2 linked regions of the Homo sapiens genome follow. The protein of the gene in region 1 interacts with the protein of each later gene in a pairwise test. Each region holds a gene or a part of one and is shown on either strand. Other genes may lie near its edges.

Region 1 (16,510 bases):
TGTCTGATACTAAGTTTTTGCCACACAATCAGAATAGATCTTGAAATAGAAAAGGTTGAATGACTGAAAAGTAAAGAAGGCTACATTTCTTACACACTCGAGTTTGTGGATTGAGATGCCTATTTGCTACATTTGTTACTCAATAAACGTTTGCTGAATGAATAAAATAATTGAATAAATAAATGAAAAATAAAAATTTGGAACAGATCCGTGTTTGCCCAGGGTGAATGCTTTTTGATGAGGGAGCCATAGGCAAGGTGGACTATGTTGATAAAAAGAGTTAAACTCTGTAAAATATTTGAAGAGATTTATTCTGAGCCAACTATGAGTGACCATGGTCTGTGACACAGCCCTCAGGAGATCCTGAGAACATGTACCCAAGGTGGTTGGGGTGCAGCTTGGTTTTATACATTTTGGGAGACATGAGACTTCAATCAAATATATTTAAGAAATACATTGATTTGGCCCAGAAAGGTGGGAAAACTCGAAGCGGGAATTGGTGGGGGGAGAAATGGGTCCTTCCAGGTTATAGGTAGATTTAAAATTTTTCTAATTGGCAATTGGTTGAAAGAGTTATCAATAGAAAGGAATGTCTGGGTTGTCATAAGAACTTGTGGAGACCAAAGTTTTGTCATGCAGATGAAGCCTCCAGGTACCAGGCTTCCAAGAAAATAGATTGTAAATGTTTCTTACCAGACCGAAGGTCTGTGTTGACCTTAACCGGAGAGGTATGAGGCTAGTCGGACCCCCACTTCCCGTCATGGACTGAACCAGAATTTTAGAGTGCCCTGGCCTGGGAGAAAGTCCATTCCGATGGTTGGCGACACGGGGGGCTTAGAATTGTATTTTCGGTTTACATCTAAAAGAAGAACAAAGGTCTAGGCTTCCAGAATCATGGGTTCTGGTGACCGTGGACCTGGAGGTGATGGTAAACTCTCTTTTTGTTCCTGGGGTGTTTTCCTTGGGATCCTTTCTATGAGAAATGTAGGCCGGGTTTTATTTTTCGGGTTCCTAGTGGTGAGGTAAGGTGAGGTGCCTCAACAAGAAAAAGGACCAGTTTTGGCTTCAGGTCTATGTGAAAGCGGTTAACACTGGGCCTGGAATGGTAGATACTCAATAATTAAGGTTACTTCTTATTCTCGGTTCTTTTTTCCAAACCTAGCGCGTCTAATCTCTTCTAGGCCCCGCCCCTTCTGAGCCCCCCCTCCTTCGGCCTGTATGATAGGCTCTTCCTCCATTTCCGGCTTCTGGGACTCGGGTGCACCACGGCTTCCGGTGTCATGGCTGCTTGAAGTCCCGGGAGTCGGTGAGGCGGCTGCAGGTCCCTCCCTGCGGAGCCGCTGGTCCGGCTGGCGGAGATGTGACCGCGGGCCCGGCCGGCCTGCCTCAGGCGTCGCGTCAGCTCCCGTGTCCGTGCCCTTAACCCACACCGATGGCGGGATCCGGCTGCGCCTGGGGCGCGGAGCCGCCGCGTTTTCTGGAGGCCTTCGGGCGGCTGTGGCAGGTACAGAGCCGTCTGGGTAGCGGCTCCTCCGCCTCGGTGTATCGGGTTCGCTGCTGCGGCAACCCTGGCTCGCCCCCCGGCGCCCTCAAGCAGTTCTTGCCGCCAGGAACCACCGGGGCTGCGGCCTCTGCCGCCGAGTATGGTTTCCGCAAAGAGAGGGCGGCGCTGGAACAGTTGCAGGGTCACAGAAACATCGGTAATTGCCGCTGTCTCCTTTCTCTTCTTGCCCAGGTCACAGTCCGAGCACACTCTTCCTCTCGCTGTCTGGCGTTCCATCTTCCTCCCCTTCTGCGGGAGAAGCGGGTTTAGCCCTCTTTATCACCCCATCCAGGCCCCTTTCCCCTTTCACTTTATTACTGTCTGCGGTATAGTGGAGTTGGTGGTCTGCTTTGCCAGGTGTCACATAGATGCTCAGTAAATTGTCTTGCTTCGAGTCTCATCGGAGAATGCCGCATTCATTAGCATACAGAAATATCTTTTCTAGTGAGAGGAGGCATGTCTTTGCTAGATTGTCGTGTCTTGTGTGGAAATTTTTGAATCTTTGCATACCAGTAGAAAATGGGAACTACGTCTGGGCCTTGTGACATCAATGCTAGTAACTCGTATAGCTCACCTATTATATCTTTAGTACGGATTTGGAAGAAATGATGCACTATTCCATGGGAGCCTTTATAGAAGTGTGAAATTTAGGAACACTATACCTTTGCTCTCTTGAGACTGTTTCAAGAATCAGATACTCAGAATGTAAGATATGTAATGATCACTGATGATTGATCTGTGAAAAGGTTTCATTTTCATTACACGACAGAAAGCTTATCATTAGTTATAGCTTTGGTTATTAAAGAAAAGTCTTATTTCCTAGCAAGTATGATGCATAGTTAATTTGAAGAGTGAGTTTTTTTATAATATCATTTTGGAGAAGAATTAACACTAGTGCTACATTTTTTTAGTTTACTAAATGGTCTGTTACTATAACCTTGGTATTGAAAAGGGAAAAATTTTGCAAGCCTAGGGACTTGCCTGATCTCTGCAAGATTAAAATTTCATCCGAAAAGTCTTAATCTCTTTGTTAGTATTTAGATTATAGAGAGCTGTTTATTTTTGTTTTAGTTTTTTTTTTTGAGACAAGTTCTTACTCTGTCACCCAGGCTGGAGTACAATGGCGAGATCACAGTTCACTCCAGCCTCCAATTCCTCCTAAAGCCATGCTCCTACCTCAGCCTCCCAGGTAGCTGGGACTACAGGCACGTAGCACCAAGCCTGGCTAATTTTTTGTAGAGAAGAGGTCCCCTTTTGTTACCCAGGCTGGTCTCCAAACTCCTGGGCTCAAGCAGTCCTCCTGCCTCGGTCTCTCAGAATGCTGGGATCACGGGCATGAGCCACCGTGGCAGACCTAGACTGCTGTTTTGGATGAAGAAGCAATGTTTAGTTTGGTTTTTGCGCATTGTGACATTCCTTTTAAAAGAGTTACTTAATATTTGGGTTTTTACTTTTAAAAATTTCTTTTTTTTTAAAGGACCTCATGATGCAACAGTAAGTTTTATTTATTTATATTTAGGTTTTTTACTTTTAATCATTTTTGCTTGGCACTCCAAGTTCGTGTTCATCACCAATGAGTACTTGGTGAAACACAAATTGAATAATTGTACCATATTTAGTATCTGTGAATGGTAATCAGCTGTTGTAGGCTGTCTCATCTTATTTTTATTAAAATAACCCAATTGCCAAAAGATCTTATTCATGGGAAAAATAAATTACAGTGGAAGCTTGCTCATCAAAGTTATCCTTATCTAGACTATCTCAAATTTGTACTGCAGTTACCTACTTTAGTAGTGACTTACTCTGAGTCTGATTTTTAAAGTATTATAATTTCTTTTTCTAGTGACTTTGTATGGAGTGTTTACAATCCACTTTTCTCCAAATGTGCCATCACGCTGTCTGTTGCTTGAACTCCTGGATGTCAGTGTTTCGGAATTGCTCTTATATTCCAGTCACCAGGGTTGTTCCATGTGGATGATACAGCATTGTGCCCGAGATGTTTTGGAGGCCCTTGCTTTTCTTCATCATGAGGGCTATGTCCATGCGGACCTCAAACCACGTAACATATTGTGGAGTGCAGAGAATGAATGTTTTAAACTCATTGACTTTGGACTTAGCTTCAAAGAAGGCAATCAGGTAAGAAATAACCTTTTCTTTTCTCTCGCAGTTTAAAATGTAGTGGTTGAAGCCAAATATTTTTAAATGACAAGGGTAGTTTAGTAGGGGCTTACAAGTCATTTTAACCTAAATTACTGAAATGCCAGGGGATGCAGTAAATCAAAAGAATTTCAGTGCCACCGTGTAAAAAAAGGACATAATGTTTGGGTCAGGTAGGAGGAGCCAGTGAAGCATGAGAGCTCTGGAATTATTAAAAGTACTTAACCTACATAGAATGGTTTTTTAAATTTTATGCGTGTTTGGCTAATTGCTGAGTTACTATTCCTGGTCTCTTCAGTGTTGGGGCTGTATCTCGTGGCAGAATGCATATGATAGTTCTGCCAAATCCTCTTTTCTCCATGGTTTATCATTTCTTTGCAGTGTCCTTATTATCAGCAGTGCCTAATAGGTAAGAGACAATCCAAAGAAGACTTCTTTATGAGCGCTATATGGAAATGTACAGCTTGCCTCTGAGAACTGCCCAGTTAATGAACCAAAGAATTATGGTAATCAAGGACTAAAAATTTTTAGCATTTAGCTTGGCAGTGGGTTTACTGCACTCTTAGGGAAGTAAATTCACTGTAGAGATGGATAGAAAGGGAGCAGCTTTTTTATTGGTTGTAATATTTACTCATCTTTTTTAGGATGTAAAGTATATTCAGACAGACGGGTATCGGGCTCCAGAAGCAGAATTGCAAAATTGCTTGGCCCAGGCTGGCCTGCAGAGTGATACAGAATGTACCTCAGCTGTTGATCTGTGGAGCCTAGGAATCATTTTACTGGAAATGTTCTCAGGAATGAAACTGAAACATACAGTCAGATCTCAGGAATGGAAGGTAAACTTCACCAGTGCTTTGCTTTGGGGTCCTTACTTTCAACTTAAGAGTATTCAATTTATGATGATTTTTTTTTTTCTTTTGAGATGGAGTTTCACTCTTTCACCCAGGCTGGAGTGCAGTGGCGCAATCTCAGCTCACTGCAACCTCCACCTTCCGGTTTCAACCAATTCTCCTGCCTCAGCCTCCTGAGTAGCTGGGATTACAGGCGCCAGCCACCGTACCCGGCTAATTTTTGTATTTTTAGTAGACACGGAGTTTCACCATGTTGGCCAGGCTGGTCTCAAACTCCTGACCTCATGATGCACCCGCCTGGGCCTCCCCAAGTGCTGGGATTACAGGCATGAGCCACCGCACCTGGCCAATTTATGATGATTCTTTTAGAGAACTCTTGATTGCTGTCTGTTGTCCATACTCCTCTTTTTCTATTGATGATACTTGAATGCCACTACCAACTCCTATGGCTATCAATCTGCTAGTGAGTATTGCATTCTTATTGTTCCTAGCCTGTGGCTTGGCATATAGTAAGTGCTTGATAAAATGTTTGAATGAATGCATTTTCCTGAAGAAACAAAAGTGGTTTCTTTTGTTTACTAACAGTAATATTAAGTTCTAAAGTGTTACTAATACAACCATAGCTTATAAGTTAAATGATAAGTTTTATAGATTATCTTAACTGCTTTACAGTTAAAAAATATTTTTGCTGGGCATGGTGGCTCACACCTGTAATCCCAGCACTTTTGGAGGCTGAGGTGGGAGGCTCACTTGAGACCAGGAATTTGAGACCAGCCCAGGCAACGTAGTGAGACCCCAGTCTCTAGTAAAAAAAAAAAAAAAAAAATTATAAAAGGTATTTTAATACTTGTTTAATATCAAGAACAATAATCATTCCAAAACATTGTATTTATTAAACCTCAAAAAATTAGCTGGGTGTGATGGCACACACCTGTAGTCCCAGCTACCCAGGAGGCTGAGGCAGGAGGATCACTTAAACAGTAGCCTAAAGGATACTGATATTATCACAACATTAAAGCCCCACAATACCTTTGAAAACATACTGTAGTTAATTCCTAATTTATAAATGCATAAAAAGTTCATTCAAATATTAGAGGTTTGGAACTTAGATATTAAGCAACAAGTTTTTGATACTAAGCAACAAGTGTTTTTTTGAGCATCTAATACATACTGTATAGCTATTATAACATATAGTTTTGTTTCTTTTAAACACCTGGTCACTGATTTCCATTGTAGCATTTCCTGGAAGGGATATTTTAATAGCCCAATGTATGTACCTGATGCTTTTATGGGTAAAAATTGCTTTCTTGGGAGTAAAATCAGTATCATTCTTTATTATTGATATCCCAAACAATCAAGAGTCTTACGTATTCTTTCTTGGTGCTAATCCAGACATAGATCAGTTATTTGAATGAGTTTTGACTGTCTTTGAGCCTTTTGGACTATATCTGCTTGGCCTAGAGCTCATCAGAACTAGATCACATTCAAATTTGTGTGAAATTTAGAGGGGTGATGTGTAGTAATGGGATCTCCAATATATGCCTCTAGATAAAACGCTATTTTTCTGTTTTATCCCTTTCTATGGAGGCAAAATTGCCAACTGATTATGAGCATAGGCTCTAAAGTCAAGCTACTAGGGTTTGTATCTTGCCTCCACAAAGCTCTTACTAAGTTATTTATTTAGGTTCACTAAGCCATAGTTTGCTTTCTTTAAAATGAGGATAATAATGGCATCTATCTCATAAGACTACTGAGGTTAATAAAGAAATGATACTTTTAGCAAACAGCTCATGGTAAGTATTTAATAAATTTTACTGATAATGATAGTATCTGTTCTTTTAACTCATGTACACAGTTCTAAATTGTGAGTTAGCATAGTATTCAAGGAGAAAATATATTCTGTAAAGATTTAGAGAATGAGTAATATGACAAATAAGATGTTTTAATACTGCATCATATTCGCTTTGATAGTTTATTTCTGCCTGAAAACCAATTGAAGACTCGTTACGGAGATACCCTGAGTCACCTATTATACATTCATTTTTGCATTAAACTACATTCTTATGTGGTTACTTCGGTATTTATTTTTTATTCTTTCATCTAGTAGATGTTCATAGAGTGCTAGGCGCTGAAAATGAAGAAAAAAATGTTCTTCTCCAGAAGTGTGTAATTATGTATATTATTTCCTCTGTTAAGATTGTAGGCTCTTGCTGGGCACGATGGCTCACAGTTATAGTCCCAGCACTTTGGGAGGCCACGGTGGGCAGATCACTTGAGCCCAAGAGTTTGAGACCAGCCTGGGTAACATAGTGAAACCCCATAGCTATAAAAAATACAAAAAATTAGCTGGATGTGATGGCACACACCTATATTTCCAGCTACGCAGGAGGCTGAGGCAGGAGGATCACTTAAACCTGGGAGGCAGAGGTTGCAGTGAGCTGAGATTGCGTCACTGCACTACAGCCTGGGTGGCAGAGCAAGACCCTGTCTCCAAAAAAAAAAAAAAAAAAAAGATTGTAGGCTCTCAGAAGATAGTGTTTTCTGTTGCATTTTACTCTCAAATAGTGCTATATGCCTAGTATTCAATAAATACAGACTGAATAACCAAAGGAAAACTTTTCTCCGTTTTTTAAGGCAAACAGTTCTGCTATTATTGATCACATATTTGCCAGTAAAGCAGTGGTGAATGCCGCAATTCCAGCCTATCACCTAAGAGACCTTATCAAAAGGTATGTTACACGTACCATAAACTTGCTTTGCATTCATGTACTATGTGAAATGGTACGTCTTTTTTTTCTCTGAACAGATTTATATTATTATTTCTATGTAAGGAACATAAGTAATGAAATAGTTTTACCAAATTTGTTTTCAAAGGAATGCTCTTTTGCTCATAGTATCAGATGTTAAGCTTTTCCTGGCAGCTGCCTTTTCACTGGAAGATAGATTCACTGTACCTTTGGCCACTCATAGCCCTGGCAGTTCTGGATACTTGATGGAAAGCAGGTTTTTAAAGAGAGTCTTTTTTAACTAAAGATTGAGTTTGCTTTTGGACTACTCCCCTCCCCCCAAAAAAAGACCCAAAAACCATTTCGAATAAGATAGTTTTTTATTATACTTTAAATAATTACTCTTGACAACGGTCTGGGGACAGATACAGTTTTTCTGATATCTGAATAGATCCGAAAACAATAGATATTTTGAAAATACAAATGTGTACAGTCGTGTCATTTAACAGTAGGGATCTGTTGTGAGAAATATGTCATTAGGTGATTTTGCCATGCTGACATCATATAGTACTTACATAAATGTAAATGATACAGACTTCTGCCCACACCTAGGCTATATTGCACAGTCTATTGCTCTTAGGCTACAACCTATATAGCGTGTTACTGTACCAAATACTATAGACAGTTGTAATACAATGGTAAGTATTGTGTCTAAACATAGAAAAGATACAGTAAAAATACAGTATAAAAGATTAAAAATGGTATACCTTATAGGGCACTTTACCATGAATAGAGCTTGCAGGACTGGAGTTGCTCTGGGTAATTCAGTGAGTGAGTGGTGAGTGAATGTGAGGGCCTAGGACATTACTGTACACTATAAGACTAAGGGTAAACACTGTATACTTTGCCTACACTAAATTTATTTTAAAATTTTTTCTCCTTTTTTTGAGACAGAGTCACACTCCATCACCCAAGCTGGAGTGCAGTGGCACAATCTTGGCTCACTGCAACCTCTGCCTCCCAGATTCAAGCGATTCTTGTGCCTCAGCCTCTTGAGTAGCTGGAATTACAGGTGCATGCCACCATGCCCGGCTAATTTTTGTATTTTTAGTAGAGACGGGGTTTCACCATGTTGGCTAGGTTGGTCTCGAACTCCTGACCTCAAGTGATCTGTCTGCCTCAGCCTCCCAAAGTGCTGGGATTACAGGTGTGTGCCACCGCTTCTGGCCAAAATTTTTTTTCTTCTATAATAAATTAGCTTAACTGTAACTTTTTTACTTTATAAACTTTAATTTTTCTTTATCTTATTTACTTTTAAAATTTTTTGTTAAAAACTGAGACACAAGCACACCTTAGCCTAGACCTACACAGGGTCAGGATCATCAATATCATTGTCTTCCACTTCCACATATTGTCTTACTGGAATGTCTGCAGGGGCAGTAACATGCATAGAGCTGTCATCTCCTATGTTAACAATGCCTTCTTTTGGAATACCTCACAAAGGACCTGCCTGAGACTATTTTACAGTCAACTTTTTGGGGGAGGGCGATGTACTTTAAAGTAGGAATAAAAAAATATATAGTTATAAATACATAAGCCAGTAACACAGCTATGTATTGTCATTATCAAGTACAGTAGTTTTGTTTACATCTATGTCCTACCGCAACACCTGCATTACCTGCATTACCACAAGCATGTGAGTGATGTGTTGCGATAGGACATTATGATAGCTACGATGTCGCTAGGCGATAGGAATTTTTCAGCTCAGTATTATTTTATGAGATCGCTGTCATATATGTGGTCCATTGTTGACCAAAACGTCATTGTGCAGTATATGACTGTATTATTAAATAGTAGGTTTTTCAGATTTCTAGACTATGGACTGGAAGTGAATAAAATAATTAGTATGCTAGAAAAGTATGGATCCCTTGTCTGAGTTAGAGTAGTATAGTTTCCTTTGAATATTGGCCCTATAAACCTTTAAGTTAGTTTTATTAACTCTTTACTTTGAAATAGTTACAGACTCACAGGACTTTGCAAAAATGTTACAGAGAGGTCCCTACCATTTACCCAGTTTCCCCCAGTGGTAACTTTTTACATAACTGTAGTATATACAGTATCAAAACCAGTAAATTGAAATAGGTATAATCCACATGATTTATTCCTATTTCACCAGTTTTACGCATACTTACTTGTGTGTGTTTTTCAAATTAGTTTTAAATAGCTGTTAGTATCTGATTGATATGAGATATTATAAATTGCATTTTACATTGAAGAGATGGGAATGAAAAATTATAAAATGGATTCTAGCCTGGAAGTTAAATTTTCATCTAAGTTCTAGTATTGACTTTCTTATTTTTATTTTTTTTAAATAATAGCCCCCCCCCCCCCACCATTTTACATAGAATACTAAATTTGGAAACTATAGAAAGTCATCATGAGGAAAATAAAAATTATAAACCCACATTCTAGTGTTAGCACTTTGGTATATTTCCTTCCACTATTTTTCTGCATATTGCATTATATATGCATGCAAGTCGCTGAACCTTTTTTGTTGCTGTTGTTGAATAAAGCACAGACACTAAAAACACTAATTAAACAAATGTGTAGCTTAATCTGTAGGAACATTGTACCCATCTTGTAACTACCATTCACACCAAGAAATAAAACTTTTCCTGTCACCCTGGAAGTCCTGTATGTGTCTCATCCCAATCTCATACATTTTTGTTTCCTTGAGTGTCCTATATATTACTGCATGTGTTTCTGTTGAAAGTTTGATGACTCAGTAATTGCCTTTTCATTAAAAGTCGCTTGGTCTTCCAGCCTGGCCAAGGTGGTGAAACCCCGTCTCTACTAAAAATACAAAAAAAGTAGCCGGGCCTGGTGGCACGTGCCTATAATCCTAGCTACTCAGGAGGCTGAGGCAGAGAATTGCTTGAACCTGGGAGGTGGAGGTTGCAGTGAGCTAAGATCGTGCCACTGCAATTCAGCCTGGGCTACAGAGGGAGACTCTGTCTCAAGAAAAAAAAAAGAGTCACTTGGTCTTCTTGTCTAGATGCCCAGAGGATTTTAACTTTTTCTTCCATGTATAGTAATTTTATCAAAATATATTTTGATTTTGATTGTTCTGGGTCAATATTCTCAGAAATACGGTATGTCTCTTAAATTACAGTTTTTAAATATTTTTTCTGTTCTTTTTGGTTTTCACTTTCATGTCCTCCTCGTCTACATACGTTTGATTTTCTTTGCCTTATATTCAATGTTGCCATTTTTTCCTTTCTTTTTTTTTTTTGAGACGGAGTTTTTGCTCGTTGCCCAGGTTGGAGTACAGTGGCATGATCTCGGCTCACTGCAACCTCTGTCCCCTGGGTTCAAGCAATTCTCCCACATCAGCCTCCCAAGTAGCTAGGATTACAGGCTACTGCCACCATGCCTGGCTAATTTCTATATTTTTAGTAGAGACAGGGTTTCACCATATTGGCCAGGCTGGTCTTGAACTCCTGATCTCGTGATCCGCCTGCCTTGGCCTCCGAAAGTGCTGGGATTACAGGCGTGAGCCACAACGCCCAGCTGCCATTTTATCTTGATTCTATATTATCTCTTTTTCCTTTCTTTTTTTAAGAGACGAGGTCCCACCATGTGCCAGGCTGGTCTTGAACTCAAGTGACCTTCCAGCCTCAGTTTCCCAAAATGCTGGGATTACAGGCATAAGCCACCACCCCCAACCCATTCTTTCTTTTTTTTTTTCTTTTTTTTTGTGATACGGAGTCTCACTCTGTCGCCCAGGCTGAAGTGCAGTGGCGTGATCTCGGCTCACTGCAAGCTCCGCCTCCCGGGTTCACGCCATTCTCCTACCTCAGCCTCCCGAGTAGCTGGGACTACAGGCACCCGCTACCACACCCAGCTAATTTTGTGTATTTTTAGTAGAGACAGGGTTTCACCATGTTAGTCAGGATGGTCTCGATCTCCTGAACTCGTGATCCGCCTGCTTCGGCCTCCCCAAATGTTGTGATTACAGGCATGAGCCACCGTGCCCCGCCTCTTTTTTATTTTTAAAAATATCCTCCTTTTTGCCTACTCTTTAAGACATTATTTGTTATGTTTATTCATCCTTGTATCTCTTATAGTGTAATTTTATTTTATGAAATGATTTTTAAAATGTCTAATTCTTTCCTGAGTTCTATTACCTTATTTTTGTGATTTTCAATTTTTTTTCTGTTGCTCTTTCACATCTTATATCGTTTTTTAAAAATGTCTAGCTCATTTGAGTTTTTTGCAGGGGGAGGAGAAGACAAAGTCTCACTCTGTCACCCAGGCTGGAGTGCAGTGGCACAGTGCTCACTGCAACCTCCGCCTCTCAGGTTTTAGCGTTCCTCCCTCCTCACCCTCCTGAGTAGGTGGGCTTACAGGCGGATGCTGCCAGGCCCAACTAATTTTCATGTTTTTAGTAGAGACAAGGTTTCACCATGTTGGCCAGGCTAGTCTGGAACTCCTGACCTCAAGTGATCTGCTTGCCTCAGCCTCCCAAAGTGCTGGGATTATGAGCGTGAGCCACCACGCCTGGCCATTTAGCTCATTTTGAAATGGTAGGCTCACACCCATAATCCCAGCACTTTGGGAGGTTGAGGTGAGCAGACCACTTGAGGTCAGGAGTTCCAGACTAGCATGGCCAACATGGTGAAATCCCGTCTCTACTAAAAACACAATTTAGCTGGGCCTAGCAGCATCTGCCTGTAATCCCAGGTACTCTGGAGGCTGAGGCAGGAGGATCGATTGAATCCTGGAGGCGGAGGTTGCAGTGAGCCAAGATTGCACCACTGCACTTCAGCCTGAGTGACAGAGCAGGACTCTGTCTTCAAAAAAAAAAAAGTAGATTATAATGGTCATATCTTTCTGGCATACATTATCTGAGATTTATCATTTTGCAGTTTTTTTTTTGTACAATAGATACTTTTCTTTCTCTTCTTTTCTTTTCTTTCAAGGCAGGGTCTCACTCTGTGACCCAGGCTAGAGTGCCATGGTGTGATCACAGCTCACTGCAGCTTTAAGCAATCCTCCCACCTTAGCCTCCAAAGTAGCTGGGACCACAGGCATACACCACCATGCCTGGTTTATTTTTTTTGTAGACAAAGTCACACTATGATGCCCAGGCTGGTTTTGAACTCCTGGGCTCAAGTAATCCTCCTGCCTTTGCCTTCCAAAGTGCTGGGATTACAGGCGTGAGCCACCACGCACAGTCAGTTATAATCCTTTTTATGTTGCCCATTTTTATGTGAAAATTATTTTCCTAAACTTAAAGAAAATATACTTGGGATAACTTTTCTTATATAGGGCTCCCTCTTCTGTTGTTTTGTATAATATTCCCCAAAAAGTGGCTTTTTTCAGAGATCTCCTGGCTCTTCTCTTCTGCTTTTTTCTGGTGCCTCTCTCTCTCCCCTCATCCTGCTCAATTTGGATTGTGTTCCCAAGATTTCTTCTCACTGTGGGACTTTGCACTGAAAGAAAGCTTTGGCTGGTTAGTTTTAAGAGGTCTTAGTGTCTAGATTACTCCAACCTCTTATGATTTTACAAAGAACTGCTTGTATTCACTTAGTATTAGAATGTATAACCCCTTATAGTTTCAGCTGCTTTTCTCCAGCATCTTGCTGTGCAGTCCAGTGAGTACCTTTTGGCTGTTTGGGTTTATTTTTTTTCTGGTTCATCAGATCAATTGTAGCTTTCCTCTGCCTTCTTACACATAGATGCCAATATAGTGCAAATCTTACAACTATTGATAGTTTGGCACTATAGGTTTTTTTTCGTATGTGTGTGTGTATGATGGAGTCACACTCTGTTGCCCAGGCTGGAGTGCAGTGGCACGATCTCGGCTCACTGCAACCTCCGCCTCCCAGGTTCAAGTGATTCTCCTGCCTCAGCCTCCCCAAATAGCTGGGACTACAGGTGCACAGCACCATGCCTGGCTAATTTTTTGTATTTTTTAGTAGAGACGGGATTTCACCATGTTGGCCAGGCTGGTCTCAAACTCCTGACCTGAAGTGGTCCACCCACCTCTGCCTCCCAAATTGCTGGGATTACAGGCGTGAGCCACCACGCCTGGCCTAGTTTTTGTTTTTTAAGTGGCTTATTTTTACTTTATAAATGCTTACTTACAATAAGGAAATAATGGTCTTTTTATGCCACAAACACTTCAGTAGCTATATAGAGATACATTAATTTTATTAGACTATAACAGCATCTCGGTCTTCTTTTTTTAATGACATAAAATTGTATGTATCATGTACAACGTGTTTTAAAGTATATATACATAATGGAATGATTAAATCTAGTTAATGAACAAATGCATTATTTTACATAGTTATTTTTTGTGATGAGAGTGCTTAACATTCACTCCCTATGTTTTTCAAGAATCCAATATATCATCATTAACTAGAATCACCATGTTGTGCAGTAGATCTCTTGAACTTATTCTTTCTATCTAACTGTAATTAGGCATCTTTTGGCTTTGGCCAATGTCTCCCCAAACTCCTCTCTCCTCTAACGCCCCCACCCAGCCTCTGGTAACACCATTCTTCTCTCTACTTCTGTGACATCAACACTTTTTAGAATTCACATATGAGTGAGATCATGCTGTATTTGTCTTTCTGGACCTGGCTTATTATAACACTTAACATGATGCCCTACAGGTTCATCTGTGTTGAAAATGACAGGATTTGCTCCTTTCAGTGGCTGAATAGTATTCCATTGTGTATATATATATCATATTTTCTTTTTTTACTCATCTGTGTTTTTTGTTTTTTTTTTACTTTTTACACATCTGTTTTTTAATTTTTTTTTTAAGCTAACATGCAAGAAATGAACACTTATCTGTTAATAGATACTTAGGTTGATTCCATATCTTGTATATTGTGAATAGTGCTGCAACAAACGTGGGCCTACAGGTATCTCTTCATCATACTGATTTCATTTCCTTTGGATATATACCCAGTAGTGGGATTGCTGGTAGTTCTTTTTTAAAAATTTTTTTTAAGGGGCCTCCATACTACTTTCCATAATGGCTTTACTAATTTATATTCCCACCAACAATGTGTACGGATTCCCTTTTCTTTATGTCTTTTGTCTGTTTGATGATAGCTATTGTAATAGGTATGAGGTGATACCTCATTGTGGTTTTGGTTTTTCATTTTCCTGTTGATTAGCGATATTGAGCATTTCTCATATACTGTTGGCTATTTTTATGTGTTCTTTTGAGAAATGTTTGTTCAGGTCTTTTGCCCATTTTTTAATTGGGCTATTTGTTTCCTTGCTATAAAGTTATTTGAGCTCTTTTTTTCTTTTTTCTTTTTCTTTTTTTTTTTTTTTTTTTGAGACAGGGTCTCGTTCTGTTGCCAAGGTTGTAGTGCAGTGGTGTAAACATGGCTCACTGCAGCCTTGAATTCATAGGGTCAAGTGATCCTGGAACTACAGATGCATGCCACCACACCAGCTAATTTTTAAATTTTTTTGTAGAGAGAGGATCTTGCCATGTTGCCCAGGCTGGTCTCGGACTCCTGGGCTCAAGCAGTCCTCCCACCTCTGCCTCCCAAAGTTCTGGGATTACAGATGTGAGCTACCACACCCAGCCAAATTGAGTTCCTTATATATCTTGTATATTACTCCCCTAGCAGATGTATAGTTGGTAAATATTTTCTCCCATTCTGTAAGTTGTCTCTTCACCCTGTTCATTGTTTCCTTGGCTGTGCAGAAGGATTTTAGTTTGATATAATCCCATTTGTCTGTTTTTGTTTTTGTTGCTTGTGCTGTTGAAGTTATATTCAAAAATTCAGTGCTCAGAACAATGTTGTGCAGCTTTTCTCTTGTTTTCTTCTAGTAGTTTTGGGTCTTACATTTAAATTGTTAATCCATTTTGAGTTGATTTTTGTGTAGGTCAGAGATAAGGGTTTAATTTTATTCTTTGGCGTGTTAATATCCAGTTTTTCCCAGCACCGTTTATTGAAAATACTGTCCTTTCCCCATTGTGTTTTCTTGGCACCTTTGTTGAAAATCAGTTGGTTGTAAATATTTTTTTTTCCCTGGGCTCTCTGATCTGTTTCATCAGTCTGTGTGTCTGTTTTCATATCAATACCATGCTGTTTTGGTTACTGTAGCTTCATAGAACTTTTTTGAAGTCAGGTAGTATAGTGCTTCCAGCCTTGTTCTTTTTTCTCAAGATTATTTTGGCTATTTAGGGTGTCCTTATGGTTTTTGTTATAGATATTGTCCATGGGTTTTTGGTTTTGCTATCTAGTTGCTTTATTATTAGAGAAATTTGATGAGATTCAACAATCATCCCACCGATATCTTTTTTTTTTAATTGTGTTACCCTAAATCTGTGTCTTTTTTGTCACTCACTGTTACAGAGTGTGGATCACTTTGCAGTGTTTCATTTATTAATCAAAAGTGTTATTTTAAATCACAGTATAATGTCATAGGTATGTATCATGAATTACTAAACCATTTACTAATAAATAGCATTTGTATTTATAAGTGAATGATTCAATAAATCATGCTAATATAATTAATGCTGTGATGAACATTCAGACATTCTTACTTTCTTTAATGGTTGCATTTTCAAAAGATTCAGCAGAAATGATAAGGCACCTATTTTTGTGTTTTAGCATGCTTCATGATGATCCAAGCAGAAGAATTCCTGCTGAAATGGCATTGTGCAGCCCATTCTTTAGCATTCCTTTTGGTAAGTTGTGTATTCTTTTATTTTTTTCTTGGTCATTTGACAGTCATACAAGACATCAGCACTAATTTATATTCACAAGTTCCTTTATCTGGTGTTCAACTTATTTGGGGGGATTTACATTTAACCATATTATGATGAATTTTAACAGCCCCTCATATTGAAGATCTGGTCATGCTTCCCACTCCAGTGCTAAGACTGCTGAATGTGCTGGATGATGATTATCTTGAGAATGAAGAGGAATATGAAGGTTAGTGTTTTCTAAATTATATTTTAATGTGTCTTTCTTAAATAAGTCTAGAATAAACATATCCGTAACATTTTCATATTTCTCAATTTATCTAATGAGAATATTGAACAATATGATCTCTAATATACTCTCACTTTTATCTTTTTGAGGCGGAGTTTCACTCTTGTTGCCCAGGCTGGAGTGCAGTGGCACGATCTCAGCTCACTGCAACCTCTGCCTCCTGGGTTCAAGCCTCAGCCCCCCAAGTAGCTGAGA
Region 2 (16,856 bases), on another chromosome or scaffold:
TCTCATACACTGCTGTAAGGAATGTAAATTGGTGCGACCAGTTTGGAAAACAGATTGGCAATATCTACAAAAGCTAAATATCTGAACACCTTATAACTCAGCAATTCTACTCCTAAGCATATACCCAACAGAAATCCATATATATGCTCCCCAAAAGACACATTGTTCATAATGGCACTATCCATAATAGGCAGAAACAACCCAAATGTCCATCAACATAATAAGTTATAATATATTCACCAATAGAATGCAGTGAAAATGAACGAACTATTGCTACATGCCATAACATAAATGAATCTCAGAAAATAATATTGAGATGAACAGGCCACATATGAAAAGTAAATACTATATGATTCCATTTACTTGAAGCTCAAAAGCAGGCCAAACGATCCATGATATTTAAAATAATGATAGCAGTTACCTTCATAAGGAGGTAGGGACCAAGTGGGGGAAAGGAGACTTCTGCGGTGCTAGTAATATGATATTCCTTGATCTGAATGTTGGTTACATGGGATGCTCACTTTATGAAAATTTGTTGAGTTGTACACTTTTTATACAACTCAACAAATTTTTTGAGCATTTTTCTGTACATTATGCCTAATTAACACCTAAAAACAAAAACACATACATACACATATGCACATGTTCACATACTAAAATTATTACCCACATGAAAGTTGGCAAATATGAACTGGTTGGTTGGGGTGGTAAACTGGATGTGGAAGAGAGTAGGGAGGTTGGAGAAGAAACCAAGTGAGTGGATGAAGGAGGGAAAGTATGTAAACAGGAAAAGCAGAGCAAAGGCTAAATAATGAATAGTAGAAAGGAAGCCCATAAAGAGTCCAAGAACGCTGATTTAACTTCTCTACCTATCCACCCACTTTACAAGGTTATTGTAAGATCAAATGAGATCATGACTATAAAAGTCCTTTGTTAAAAATGCGTTCCTCAAATTTAAGGATAATATATAAAATGTCCAGGATATCTCTTAAATTATAAGGTTCAATCTATTCTAGAGCTGGAAAAAATCTTTGGGACAAAATCAAGACCTTAGCAGGATACACAACTTAGCAAATGTCATTCAGGTACTTAGTCTGTGAATAAGATCTGGAATCCTGTGCTACGGACTTTTCTTCAAGTAGTCATTTCACTATACCAAGTACCTATGGATATTACCATACCTTTAAACAATTTTCACATATTTTTAATCATTGATTATTGATTTTTTTAATACATGCCCTGATACCTAGCTTTCATTTATCATTAGATTGTTGTACCGAAAAGGCATAATCAAGTATGTAGGGCCGGGGGAAGGGGTAATAAAAAAGATTTTTGTTTATGTTGGTTGAACAATCATAATCATGAACTAAAATTACCTAATGCATAATACCTTATGCATTACATAAACATAATGAAGGCATGGCTCTCTGGGACCCAATATTTCCAAATATCACTAGGTATATCCACTAATTGACCCAGTCTGGTTAGCAGTTCTGTTGTTCTTTTAATTACAGAAGTAATAACACTCATTGAAACAAACAAATTAAATACAGAAGTATACACAAAAGAGTTTGCATGTCTTACTCCATACCTATCACATACAGACACATAGACAGAATTTTTCCTTTGTAGGTGTGTCATTTATTGTTGTTTGCCATTTTAAAAAATGAGATCAATCATGTTGTATATGTTATCCTAAAACACGCTTTTGCACCTAACAGATACCTCCCTGCGTCATACCTGCAGATCTAGCCCATTCTTAAGAATGTGCCATAATTTATTCTGCCATTTTCTAACAAATGGTCATCCAAGTTCTGCCCAGTTCAATTTTTACAAATATGTTACAAGTTATACTTGTTTATATAACCTAAAGTACCAAGGCTTTTGTTTACTTTTGATAGACTTCTAAAAAGTATCAGCATATTTAAATCAGTTGTAGCAATTCACACTTCCACCAACAATGTGGGAGCCTAAAGCCTTACACTTTGGCCTACACTAGATGTTATCATTTCTTTCATTTCTGCCAATCTATGTAAAAGAAATGATAGATCCATATTTTGTTTGCATTTTCATATCTTTACCTTTAGTCATATTCATTTCTTCTTCTGAGATTTGCCATTTTTCTATTGGGTTATCTCTTTTTTAAAATCAATTTTAAGAACTGTTTAATCTGTTAATGTTTAAAGGGCACAGAAGTCAGGAAAGTTAATCGATTTTGTTCAGCTCAATATCCTCACAACAAAGACCAGTGCCTGACATATAGTATACCCATTTAATATGTACTGATGAATATAGAATATTAAACCTTTTTGTTATATGTTACAAATGTTTTATCTTAGCCTATCAATTTCTTTACATAGTCTCTAGCTATACAATGATTTTGTTGTAGATGTTGATGTTTTTATAAGGAAATAATTATCTATTTTCTTTATCAGTTCAGGGTTTATTCTCTTAAGAAAGCTTCCCTATCCTGAGGTATTAAAATATTTATCAAAATTTCCTTTTAATATTTTAGAGGGTATGTTTTTTAATATGTAAACCTTTAACTGAATTTTATATGGTGGGAGGCAGGGGATCTCTATTTTTTTCTGGATGGAGAGTTGTGTTAGTCCATTCTTGCGTTGCTGTAAAGAAATACCTGACACTGGGTAATTTATAAAGGAAAGAGGTTTAATCAGCTTACGGTTCTGCAGAGTGTACAAGAAACATGGTGCCAGCATCTGCTCAGTTTCTGGTGAGGCCTCAGGAAGCTTTTATTCAAGGCAGAAGGTGAAGCGGAAGCAGGCAGAAGGAGGCACATAACACAGCAAGGGGGGAACAAGAGAGAGTGAGGGACAGGGTGCCACACTTTTAAACAATCAGATCGCACATGAACTCAGAGTGAATACTCACTCATTGTCATGAGGACAGCAACAGGCCATTCATGAGTGATCTGCCCCAGTGACCCAAACACCTCCACTAGGCCCCACCTCCAACACTGTGGATTACATTTCAACATGAGATTTGGAGGGGATAAACGTCCAAACCATATCAAGAGTCAATTATGCCATGCTTTTCTAAATGAACAGAAATATTATTAAGTAACCTTACATATCACACTTCTTGATTGTTTCTATCCCACTGAGCGACTATCTGTTCCTGTGTAATACCATACAGTTGTCATTACAGTCAATTAATACCAAGTATAAATCCCTGGTAGGACAAGGCCCCTGTCTTCTTTGTAAGGGAATGTGAAAACTTCTTTCTTTTTTTATTTTTTTTGAGACAGAGTCTCGCTCTGGTGCCCAGGCTGGAGTGCAGTGGCGTGATCTCGGCTGACTGCAACCTCCGACGCCCTGGTTCAAGTGATTCTCCTGCCTCAGCCTCCCAAGTAGCTGGGATTACAGGCATGTGCCACCACACCCAGCTAATTTTTGTATTTTTAGTTGAGACGGGGTTTCACCATGTTGGCCAGGATGGTCTTGATCTCCTGACCTCGTGATCCACCCGCCTCGGCCTCCCAAAGTGCTGAGATCACAGGCATGAGCCACCGCACCCAGCGTGAAAATTTCTTTTTGTGAAGTTCATTTCTTTTTGTGAGGGAAAACTTTTTTCAGTTCTCAGAATTTTACTCTTCAGCATGAGCTTTCAATTCATTGCATTCTCCCACACAGGAAAAAAAAATCCATTAGGATTCAGAATGGATTAACTGCTCTATTGCTACTGACTTTTATTTCATACTAGAAAATGTCTAATAAAACATCTTTATCAAAGTCTCATTGCCCCTTTTAAAAAGAGCATTTATAAATAGACTTTTGAATTTACTCATTTTGATTTTGAATGGCATTTATCATTATGGGTTATATTTCCTTAATATATGAAATACTTTAGATTTTTTAAAGCCTACTGAGGTCACTTTGGTCTCTGTTCCCACTTATTTCCAAATATAACTAAGGGGTTATTTGGCTACTCTGCTCAGAAAGAAAAATAAGTATCTTTAAATAATCTAACAATATACCATTCTCAGTCACTTTTGGAAACAAAATATCCTCTGTCAATAAATAACAAGAAAGAGCTTGAGTTTTTTTTTCATGACATTATATTTGAAGAGAATCTTTACAACAAATGGAACAAAACAGATTTGTTTTATGATTTTAAAACACTTTTTGTTTTGCTCTACTTATTAATTTCAGTCCCCTAGTTTCTCAGGAAAAAATAAAATCACACAATTGTTTTTTCTTAACATGATGAGGCAAACTATAAGACATACACCTACTGCTGTGCATCCTGTTCTTTTCTCCAGGATATTCCATTTCATTTCTTCTTAGTACCAAAAATATTATGATAGCGGTGCTATAAAGAAAACTGACTGGTCTGGGAGTTCAGTGACAACCACTCCTAGATCTACTTGCACTTGCCACAACCTCGTTGTGTGATCTTGCCATTCTAACTCTCAGATTCAATGAAAGCTGTATGTCTTTTAAAATTTATCAGTTGCATCAGACCATATATATAACTCAGAATAAGTTCAAAGATTTAAGCAGTTTCTAGAAAAAAAATTTTTCTCTCTACTTGAATGAACTATTTATACCAAGTTTACAAAGATGAAAGTTATTTCAGTGAAAATGTATAAATGGATAACTAGCTTCACATTTATCATGAGTTGGGGCTGTCATTTGACTTTTGTCATAACATTTTACCTAATCCACAAAATGTTATTTTCAAATAAGACTTTGGTGCTTTAGAAAAAGCACCAAAGAGCTTTTTCTAAAGCTGTACATGCTTTGAGAAAGTAAAGTGAGCCATGAAAGGAGAAAATAAAGGCCTAGTTTTTGTATCCCAATAGATTTTTACCAAGCTTCCCCTGAAGAAAGTTTAGAATGAGCATGATGGGAAAAGGGAGAAATTGTATGCTGCAGATAGAGGGAGGAAAGGCCAACTAGGTCCAACAAGTAAAAAGAGGACTAGTCTCAAACTATTAAATATATGATTTACCTAGCAAAAGCTTTAAGTCACAGCTGAATTACACTGGGGAAACAATTACAGACTTTACAATGGAAAGAAGCATCTTCAATGTTGGCTGCAATCACTGACAGCAGGAATACTCACTTTTGAAAAAAAAAATTGGCTATTGTTTTCTGTTTTCCACATCTTAGTTTAATATTATGTTCCTCAAACACTATGAAGTTGAGAACTGAATTGATTACCTGGGAAATTCTGGTGAAACTGAGGTGTTTGTTTCATTAATTATCCATGTCATTTATCTTCTTAACTTAATCAACCTAAATTTAGCCTGAATATTATTTGTTAGGGACTGAAGACTTCTAGAGAGCAGAGAGCACCTTTTTTTAATTAAACAAATTCCTTTGATAATATTTTAATGTGACTCAAGAATCCAGCACTATCTATATATGGACCCTCTGCATCCATGAAAAGAAGTACCTCATACAATTCTGTGAATATGAGACTAAAATACAATTCCAATTATGAGGTATTTTTTTTTTAGTCTAATGCAGGAAGAATGAAGACTAGTCACGTCAAGAACCACAGCCTTGCTATGTTTTCCTTGTGTAAGTGCTGTAAATAAATTGGTGAAGGGAATGATCAAATGCCTTATTTTCCTCCCTAAAGTTAGACTTATCAATATTCTTGACCCCAGATCATTCTGGTGTCTATACTGTATAGAGTGTTCGCAAAGATGAGTGCAATGATTCTTCCCATCCTCTCCACATGCACCTCTGTGGCTTTGCCACCCTGCCCATCAAGAAGTGGAGTTGAATTTCTAGAATCTGGATTTAGCTGTTTAACTTGCTTTGACCAATGAGATTTGAAGAAAAAGTCACAAGCTGAAACTTCCTTTTAGCTACGTTGGAACCATGAGACCACTACGTGAAGATGCCTCCGATAACCTGTTAGAGATATCTGGCCCAGGTAACAGCCAGGACCAAGTCAAGCAGCCATCTTCCATCATCCAGTAATAGCCAAGTCACATTATTTGTGGCACATGAGTGACCTCCACAAAAGAACCATTGACATGAGTCTAGCCCAGATTACTGATCCAAAGGATGAGCAAATAAAATGCTTGTCTTTATGCCAAATAAAACAATGTCACAGACTCTCCCAATCTCCTTATTATTTTTTTTTTTTTTTGAGATGGAGTTTCGCTCGTTGCCCAGGCTGGAGTGCAATGGCGCGATCTCAGCTCACTGCAACCTCTGCCTCCCAGGTTCAAGAGATTCTCCTGCCTCAGCCTCCTGAGTAGCTGAGACTATAGGCGCATGCCACCATGCCCAGCTAATTTTTGTATTTTTAGTACAGACGGGGTTTTGCTGTGTTGGCCAGGCTGGTCTCGAACTCCTGACCTCAAGCGATCCATCCCCTTAAATCATGTAAAATTTCATGAGTATGTGCCATGTGCAGTTTTCTGTGAAGAAGATCCTTAATCTTCATCAGATTCTCAAAGCGATCTATGAGCCAAATTTAAAAAGTAAAGACCCATCAGCCCCAACTATGATTTCTCTTCCAGAAGCTGGCCTTCTCAGCTCTGGCTTGACTTACTGGTATAGTGTGTGGCTGGCTTTGGAAAGAAAAGGAAACTCTATTTACATTATCTGTATCCCAGCATCCTCACCTCTTCCATGAGTCTAGCTGAGTAAGAGTTTGGATGTTAGTTCCCATCTTTTCCTGTGTATTCATTATAATGCATGGAACTATGAGAGTAATTCCCATGTTAAATGTGGCCAGAGAGGTCGGCAGACCAAGGAGCAAGTTACTGTCCTCCCAAATTACCATTACACTTCCACAGAAAGTCCTCTAAAAACTTGCCACAGACATTACCAAACTGTCACCCTTTATTGTTCCAAGTCAAAGCAGACCAAGTACACCTCAATACCAAAGCTTTTCTCCCAGAAAAAAAAAAAAAAAAAAACAGGAACTCAGAGTCGGCAAAGACTCTCCTAAAACATCTGTCCTGGCCAGCTCTTCATCTGGATCGGTGCTGACAGAAACAGAAACGCCAGGGGCCGGAAATGCGGCCAGCGCGATGCCCCTCTGTTCTGGGCACCGTTTATTCGAATACCCCGTCAGGTATCATCAGGTGTCACTCAGGAAGGAGACACGCCCTGCCTGGACTGCCGCGAACGCTGAGCGTTACGGGGTACGTGGTGGCCCCTCAGGTTACCGACCGGGTCGGTTAGATTCCAGAGGACAAAAGGCAGGGAACAGCCTGGTCTTGGGGTCTTTAAACAGAGAGGCGCCATCTACTGCCGAGAACCCAGTCAACATCTCATGGACAAAGCTGCACTAACCCCCGGCCGGCTGAGCTCTGGGCCCCGTTAGCCTTTCTTTGAGGCTCGTCCACTAAAAGGCAGCCCCAGTAGTCCCAGCTGAAATGCTCCACACCCGAGCCCCGCTGGCCTGCGGAAGCGAAGACTGACAAGCACTCTGTCCGCGCGCTGAGTGGGGGCTCGCGGCACCGGGTGCTCCGCCCAGGCCCCAGCACACTCACTCACCAGCCTGGTAGCTCGGTACGGCCCGGGCCCCACGATGCGATGCTCCATGGCGCGTAGGCAGCAGCGGCCGCAGCCGCGCCAGCGCTGATCCCCGCCAGCCGGAGGAGCAGCAGTTTGAATCCCAAGCCCGCGGGCTGCGGGCGCTGATTGGGCGGCGCGGCAGCACGTCACCGGAAATGCGCGGGGAGGCAGGCGTCTTCTCCGAGACCCGCGGCGCTGGGAGCTCCGCGTGCGAACTTGCCCGGGGCGAAATCTGTTGCCCACCCTGGTCCCACCGTGCGAGCACACCTAGGCAGGTGCGACTAAGGGGCCGGGGGCGTCTCCCCAGCGCTGGAAAACGCTGTGCAGCGCCCTTCCCAGATTTCTGCGTCCGCGCAACACAAACACACGCAACGCTATCTCTACAAAAGGGTCAATAATAGGTGTTATCCAGCGACCGAAACCCAGCTTTGGGCCGCGTGGATAAATACCTGTCCTCCCTACCAAGTGCACTGTGAGCCTGGAGGTGCTGCTAACGCTGGGAGAAGCGGTAGTGAAATGAAGCGAGGCGACAGCTTTTACCAGTGTAGGGACATTTAAAAACGGGATAGAGAGCACAAGGAGCGTAGACAGTGTGTTAAGGGCAATAAAGAGCGGGAAGGGAGCCCCGATTCCTCTTCTGTTTGTTCTCATGATAGTCTTTTCCCCTTTAATTTGAGTTCTATGTTTTGTATTGGGCTGATACTTTTAGTCCTCGGCAATAGGGTTGTGAGTCCTTTTTTGACTGCTTAGAATTTTCCCCCTGGGAATTGCTAGTCCGATTTGCAATCTTTCAGAGGGACAAATGAAGTAACTCCATATACTTAGGACTCTGTACACCTACTCAAATTTGGTCATCTCGGTAAGTACCCAGGACAAGACGTTGAAGGAGTGAAGGTGTGCCATTCCAAAATATGCCTAATTGGTATATTGATTATTTCGAGCGGAAAACATTGGAGAAATGGTAGTTTCAGAAAGGGCAAGCTGACCTGCCTCTTCGATGCAGCAGGCCACAAAGATTTCTCTGGGATGGGCATCCTCTCCCTACCACGGTGAGAAAATAGCCTTTATCACCAAAGGCTTGGAATTGAAGGCTGCAGTGGACCTGAATAAACATTCTTAACGAAGTAACCCTATCTTCCACTAGGAGATATAGGAGATTTTTTACATATATCTTCTAGTGACTCCCTAGAAAATGTTACTGCCTTTGTGAGCTGTGGAAGTTAACTCGAGTCACAGGGCACCAAAATATGTTAGCAGCTGCCCATATCCGAGACACGGCCCCAAAGTATGTTACAGGCAGTGAATTCCTACAGATCTGCAGCAACCTCAATTCTTGACTCCTCAGAAGAAAGAGTTCGACTGAGGGGCATAAGGCAAAAGGAGAGACCAAGGCAAGTATTAGAACAGAAGTGAAGTTTATTAAAAAGCTTTGAATGAAAGGAAGTACACTTGGAAGAGGGCCAAGCCAGTGACTTGAGAGATCTAGTGCGTAGTTTGACCTTTTGACCTGGGGTTTTATACGTTGGCATACTTCTGGGGTCTTGCTTTTGGGGCTTTGCATTACTTCTCTCCTGATTCTTCCCTTAGAGTGAGCTGTCCACAGGCGCATACTTGAGCCCACTTGCCCAACTCCTAAGATCTTATCGGGAAGCTGCTGATCAACAGTTCAAGTGTTTTCTATTAGGAGACTGCCTTTCCCTGGTGCCGGCTGTGACCAACTATTATTTTAGAGAGACAATTAACAACCACCTGACCATCACCTGATGGCTGCCTGACATTCCTGATGTGTGTGTGTATGAGGGGGAGCCCTCTCCTGCCCTGCTCATGCCTGACTAGCTACCTACTGTAACACCTTAACCAGATTTTCTTTGTCATGGCTTTTCTTCTCAAATTTATCTCTCTTTACCTAAAAAAATGAATAAAAGCATCTTACTTTGGCCACTTCTTCAGACTTCACTCTCTTGTGAAGATCCCCATGTGCACATAAAACTAATAAAATGTGTATACTTTTCTCCTGGTAATCTTCCTGGTGTCAGTGTGGTTTCTAGATACAACTGGAGAGCTCATTAAGAGGTAAAAGGGAGCTTGGAGGTGATCTCTGGCTCCCCTATAACATCATAAGAAAGATCTAAGTAAGGGATTGGACCACCTCTTCTCATCCTCAAAACCACACCACTACCACCACCCATTTGCTGCCTTAGGTTTTTATTTAGCCCAAGAAATGTCCTGAGATGATACATATATATTGCTTTTGTAATTAGAAAAAGCAATTTAAAATTTTTTTCTTACTTCCAGTAAGTGAATCCTTATCAGAACTTTTTTTCTTTTAACCTCTAAGCTCCATGGAAGAGATCTTCTTGTCCTTGGCAAGGAATATAAAGAGATACTTGTGTCCTTGACACAAGAAGCAGGAGAAAGGGAATTTTAAAGCCTTGTCTGAGACCTGCCACCACCTATCATGGTGGTGAAACTAGAATCTGATACAAAACATTATGTCCAGCATTATGCAGCTTTCTAGTTCGGTAAGTATCACAGACTGTGAAATTCCATAGATCTGGATTTCAATAATGACTGGTACTGCTTACCAGTGGAGTGACTTCAAGCTAATTATTTAATTTCCATCTACTCACTGGTAAACTGGGAATATTAATGATTATCTTGCAGAGTTGTAAGGATGTATGTAAAGTGCTAAATATAGTGCCCAGCATGTATTTAAAGTGCCCAGCATATAGCAGTAATAAAAAGAACTATATATTTTTTTAAAAAAATCATGCCAGCTTCTTGAGCATTTCCCAAGAGCCTGTTATTAGCCATAGACAAGATGGCTGTTACTAGAAAGGCATACTTCCAAAGGATCTACATATCAGAAGACACAAAGAGTCATTGCACGGGCCAGGGACATCTCCCCAACGCTGGACAATGCTGTGCAGCACCCTTCCCAGACTTCTGCACTCACGCAACACAAACACACACACTATTTCTCTACAAAAGGGTCAATAAAATGGTGTCATCCAGCGATGCCTCATGCCTATAATCCCAGTACTTTGGGAGACCAAGGCAGGTGGATCACTTGAGCCCAGGAGTTCAAGACCAGCCTGGGCAACATGGCAAAACACTGTCTCTACTAAAAATACAAAAATTATCTGGCTGTGGTGGCACGCTCCTGTAGTCCCAGCTACTCAGGAGGCTGAGGTGGGAGAATCGCTTGAACCTGGGAGGTGGAAGTTGCAGTGAGCCAAGATCGCCCCACTACACTCCAGCCTGGGTGACAGAGTGAGATCTTGTCTCTAAATAAATAAATAAATGCCTCAAAGAAATCGAGGTTTTACATTTGTTCATTCACTTATTCAGCAAGTATGTAAGAATACACTACTGTGTGTCAGGTATAATTCCAGTCTGAAATCATGCAATAGATAAAATGCAGCTTCTAGGAGCTGACTCCTAAGTAGAGGAAGGGATGACAAGCCAGCTATAATACATTCAAATATGTATTATATATCAGGTGGTGATTGAGTACTGGGAAGAAAAGTAAAAGACTAAAGTGGAGAGGGTGGTAGGGGGAAGTTGCTGTTTTGGTTCAGGTGGTCAGAGAAGGCATCTTTGATGAAATGACATCTGTGTAGACGATCTGAGTAAAGTAAGGGGTAGTTGTCTGGGGAAGAGCTTCTAAGCCGAAAGAATGAGCAGCCCATGAGAAACTTCCAGGAGACATGGGAAGGAGGTTGGTGCTGACTAAAGTGAGGGAGTAAAAGGGGCAGTGGAGGAGATGGAGTTGAATACAGAGTGGAGTGGGGCTTTCAGACCACATTATGGGCCATGGGATTCTGATCCTCTTCTGAATTAGTGAAAATATATTAGAAAGTTTTGATCAGCAGAGTGATCAAAACAGATCACAATCACTCTATTGATCTTTGGCCAATCATTTTGGCCAAATCACTCTGGCCATTGCGTGGATACTGGACTCGGGTAGGCATTGAGGGTGAGAGAGGAGGCAGGAAAACCAGTTGAGGAAGCTGCTACAATACCTCACTGGAGAAAGTAAACATATTTGCTTGGTATGGTGCTTGGCACATAGTGGCATTCAACAACTATTTACTGAGTGAGTAAATGAGTGAGCAAATGTATTGCTCATGTAGTGTATTCTTACATAAGCTTTAGAAGTTATTCATTTCTTAAAGATCAATTTGATTCATTCATTCTGTTTGCCATTTCTCATATGAATATGGGCAACAAAATAATAGCTAGCTTTTACATTTTTATTTTAATGTATCAAATTTGTTTTTAAAACTCTTACTTTTTATCATTAAAGTCCTCTGAGATTTTGAGTTTGGGAAAATACAATCTGCACATACTCCATGACTTGTGTTATAATTGCCCCTCCACCTCCTGCCGCCTCACACACCATTACAGTACAAAGTTAGCATAATAAAACCTGTGCCAAGGAATATAGCTAAATGGATTTTCATATTTGAGAATAAGCTCAATTTCTGACACATCGCAGCTATGCCATGTAGCACATATGGTGAAGTATAATTCTCTACACCTCAGAAAGAGACGTAATGAAAAAAAATTTTAATTAACATTGATCTGGCCAAGAAATATAGGATGAATTAAAGGAGGAAGATTCTGAAGATAGGAAAGCCATTTGGAAGACAGCTGAAGGAATATAGGCATGGAATTCCATGAGTAATAGAGTGTTATGAGAAAATACCCACATAATCTTGAGCAAGACTCACCTTCTCTGATTATCAGTTTCCTCATCAGTAAAATAGAAATAATAATGGTACTTGCTTCATAGGGTTGTTGAAAGACTTAACTGAGGAAATATATACAAAGCTCTTAGAATTTTGTTTCCCTTATATGGTAGGCAGAATTCTAAGAAGGCCCCTATTTCAGAAAAAGAGAACATATATGTACATAATATACATATATGTACAGACAGAAAGAGACAAAAACAGACAGAGATTTATTAAAAGGAACTGGCTCACATGACTATGGAGCCTGATGAGTCCCAAGATCTGTAGTTGGGAAACTGAAAACCCAGGAGACATGATGGTGTATTTGCAGTCCAAGTTCAAAGATCTGAGAAACAGGGCCAATGGTATAGCTCCAGTTTGAAGTCTGGTAGGCTTGAGACCAGGAAGAGCTGATGTTTGTTTCAGTTTGAGTTTAAAGTCAGGAAAAAAATTGTTCCAGCCTGAAGGCATTCAGGTGAAGAAATTCCCTCTCATACAAGAGAGAAACAGTCTTTTGTTTTATTGAAGCCTTCCACTGATTGGATGAGGCCCACCTATATTAGAGAGGGCAATCTACTTTAGTCTATTGACTTACATGTTAAACTATCAAAAATACCCTCAAGAAATACTCAGAATAATGTTTGACCACATATCTGGGCACCCTGTGGCCCAGTAAAGTTGCACAAAAAATTAACCATTACAGCCCCTGAGATCCCCAGCCCCTGATATACATAAACCTTCTTCCCATTATTCAACCAAACACTAATCTAGACACTGCTGTAATGGGATTTTGCACATGTAATTAAGGTTGTTGATCTTGAGGTAGGACAAATATCTAGATAGGCCTACTTAATCATATGAGCTCCTTAAAAGGAGAGAAATTTCTCCAACTAGTTGTATAAGGGAAGCCAGAACTAAATTCCACCAACCTGAATGAGCTTGGAAGCAAATTTTCCCCTAGAGCCTCTACAGGAGAACTCAGCTGGCTGATGCCTGGATTTCAGCCTCCCAATACCTGATACATTGAACAGAAAGCAGCCACACTGTGCCAGATTTCTCACCTACTGAACTGTGAACTAATAAATAGGTGTTGCTTAAAATCCAGTTAATCTGTAGTAATTTCTTATGTACCAACAGAAAACTGATACACATTTTACATACAAAACTCTGAAATGCTTGTTCTAGTTACTCTATGGCTGGAGTAGGAATGGGAGAAAAAAATCAATATTTAATGAGTAATTATTTACAAGGGATGAGGGAGAAGAAAACGTCAAAGATGGCTCTAAATATATTCTGGAAAGCTGGCAAAAAAAAAAAAATTGTGCCATTAACCATAAGGAAAGAAGAGTTGTCTGGGTAAGCAAGAAGGAACATGGAGAAGGGGTCTCAGACTTTCCTGTGCATAAGAATTGTCAAGGTTCTTATGCATAGTAAAGCGCATAAAACTCAATTTTATGGATTCCACCCACAGAGGTAGCTAGAAGTACCTAGATTCCATAGCTAATTTGCTGTTTGACTATTTGCTAGTAGCTCCAAAGATCCATGACATGTACAGATTTCTAATTTTGATGAATCAAAAACTTGAAATCCCCACCTTGGGGGATGGAGTGTAAGAGAATATCATCCAGCTTGTAATTAAGCCCATCCAGCCACCTGGAATCCTCAGCTCAATATGGCTTTCTACTTTTCTAATAGAGAAAAGTAGAGTTAATCTCTACTTTTCATGCCAATGCATGTTACCGGAAAAAATATTTTGTTATACTGATATTGGATAATTCACACAAGCCATTGGACTTATTCCTTATACATGCCAAAGGCCAAAAGAAGTCGATACTTGGACATGCAGCATTCAAATGAGAATGAAATATCCAAAGAGAAATAACCCATATTTGAAAATACTAGATGAAGAGGTTGGGTACAGTTGGGGAAGTTAGAGGGAGGAAGAATAGAGAGAGGAACAGAGGACCTTACCAATGTCCCATTTCAAGGCTTTTGGTTTATGGCCTTGACTGACCTGTTTCTCTGGCCCTCATACTACTGCCTCACCCCTGTGTCTAGACTTATCTTCCTACACCTGGCTCTTCATGTACCACAATCTCTCAGCCTTCCCTGGGCCCGTGATAAATCTTATGACAGGGGCTTGTCCCATTCTTGGCTCCAACCCTGGAGACTAAAGTTCTGGACATTCATCAAAGACCTTCTCCTCTATTTTACTTTTAAAGGCACAAGATTCAAGTTTCTGCCTCAGCAGAATTACAGATCATTACATATTACTGAACTTTGGGGCAGCTGACAAATAGTCAAACAATATATTGTTTGATATCCAGTATTAGTAGATCAGTTGTCTGGCCCATGGCACCTAAGCTCAGTTTTAAAAGAAATGAAAAAAGTAAGATAAAATTATTGGCATTTTTTAAAGATTCATCACAAATGGTCCCTGAAATAGCAAGTGTACTTAATTTAGCTGGGGGGAAAAAAACTCAATTAAAAGTTTAAAAAGGAAGTTAGGGTAGAAGGGTGGGGAATATATAGAACTTTTGGGAAACACTACTGCCAGATCCTACAGACACTTAGAAGAAGTAAGGTGCTCAAGGCAGAGGGTGCTTCCTTCAGGGCAAGATATTTAACAGGAAATTTCTTACACCTGGAATCAACAGTAGAGCATCCTGTGTGCCTAGGCCCATGGACCACACGCACATGCAAGAACCCAGAATCAGAAGTGGAGAGTAGCCGGGTGCACAATCTCAGTGACTGGAGGATTGCTTGAAGCCATGAGTTTGAGACCAGCCTCAGCAAAATAGCGAGACACTTGTCACTACAAAAAAAAAAATTTTTTTTTAATTAGCCAGACTTGGGGGCACACACCTGTGGTCCCAGTTACTGAGGAGGCTGAGGTGGGAAGACTGTTTAAGTCCAGGAGTTTGAGGCTGAAGTGAGCTATGATCATGCCACTGCACTCCAGCCTGGGCAATAGAGCGAGATTCTGTCTCTAAAAAATAAAAAATAAATTTTAAAAAATGGATAGTGGTCGGCGTCACTAAGCCAGAAACAGGATGAAATTGAGATTGTGAGCAAAAGCAGTTGGGGAACAAGGAAGGTCTGTGAGCTGGGGTTGGGGCAGGGTGTCTGTATGTGTTGGGCTACCTTGAAGGGCTAACAAAGGCAACAATGGTGATTGTGTTCGCCCCCAACACTGCTGCTCTTATTTTCTTGCACAGCCAAGCAACTGAAACTTGAAAGGTTATAAAAATATAAAAAACAAAATCATTTTAAGCTTTTGTCCTTACTGATGATGATTAGATTTTATATTTTTCTTTTATTTATTCTTAAAGGTTTTAATGAGAATTCAAATGTAGGCTTATCATTTAATCATATTCAATGTTTTGAATCTGATAAATCCTCTGTGGTATAAAAATACACATTTTATTAAAAGACTTTTTAGAGTAGTTTTAGGCTCACAGCAAAATTGAGAGGAAGGTTCAGAGATTTCTCATATACCCTTTTACCCACATGTGCATAGCTTCTCTCATTATCAACACCCTCCACCACAGTGGTGCATTTGTTACAACTGATGTTTTAACTTTTCACTGGGTTATAATACATTGATATATATTTCTTTTTTAGTAGGAATCTAAGTCCCTTCCCAAATCTTATGTGAAATTGTAATCCCCAGTGTTGGAGGTGGGGCCTGCTGGGAGGTGACTGGATCATGGGGGTGGTTTTCAATGGTTTAGCATCATCCTCCTAGTGCTATTCTCCTGAGGGAGTTCTCATGAGATCTGGATAAAGGGTATAGCACCTCTCCCCTTTCTCTCTTCTTCCTACTCCCACCATGTAAGATGAGCCTGCTTCCCCTTTGCCTTCTGCCATGATTGTATGTTTCCTGAGGCCTCCCTAGAAGCTGAGCAGATGGCCAGCATCATGCTTCCTGTACAGCTTGTGGAACTGTGAGCCAATTAAACCTCTTCTTTATGAATTATCATCCCAGGTTTTTCTTTATAGCAATGCAAGAATGGACTAATACACACATATGGAGAAAAGTACACAAATCTTCTTTATATTTCTTGGTGAATTTCACAACCTAAACACATCCTGTAACCAGCACTCAGATCAAGAAACAATATATGAAGAGTATCCCTCCTCAAGCAGTTCCACAGTGTAATGGTGAACACTCTGGATTCTGAATCCAGCTGTTCAAGTTCAAGAAACAAAGGATGACCAGCACCTGAGAAGACCCTCTCATGGCACTGCCAGTATCTACTCGCTAAGGGTAACTGACACAGATATTTTACTGTGTAAGAAAAAAGAGAAGCAAAAAAGACTATACAGCAGACCAAAAAGGGAACAGACGCTGAGACACAAGTTACTAGGAATTTAGTCCCTCTATGTTATAACCCAAAAACCAATGTTGGAAACTTAAGGAGAAAAAGATAAAAGGATTTTATTTAATAGACAAAACCCTTATAGTATCCAGTTTCAGACTGGATCTACCATTTGTGAATTTTCCTGTTTCAGTTAAAACTAAAGAGTGACTTTCTAGACATTGAAATCTGTTTGACTGCATTTTCCTGTCTAACTTTCTCTGAAAAGCCTCTGGCTTGCTCCTGGA

The links.
Region 2: the proteins of UHMK1 (region 1) and DEPDC1B interact in a two-hybrid assay, tested with the Homo sapiens proteins (one study listed by BioGRID).

Annotation. Positions count from the first base shown.
Region 1 is NC_000001.11:162,496,569-162,513,078, forward strand, and holds the start of UHMK1 (serine/threonine-protein kinase Kist), read left to right. Parts: upstream 1-1,249; 5' UTR 1,250-1,432; coding exon 1,433-1,700; intron 1,701-3,386; coding exon 3,387-3,679; intron 3,680-4,344; coding exon 4,345-4,536; intron 4,537-7,185; coding exon 7,186-7,280; intron 7,281-15,931; coding exon 15,932-16,008; intron 16,009-16,156; coding exon 16,157-16,255; intron 16,256-16,510. UniProt on the Homo sapiens protein: Upon serum stimulation, phosphorylates CDKN1B/p27Kip1, thus controlling CDKN1B subcellular location and cell cycle progression in G1 phase. May be involved in trafficking and/or processing of RNA.
Region 2 is NC_000005.10:60,692,556-60,709,411, forward strand, and holds the start of DEPDC1B (DEP domain-containing protein 1B), read right to left. Parts: upstream 7,612-16,856; 5' UTR 7,539-7,611; coding exon 7,491-7,538; intron 1-7,490.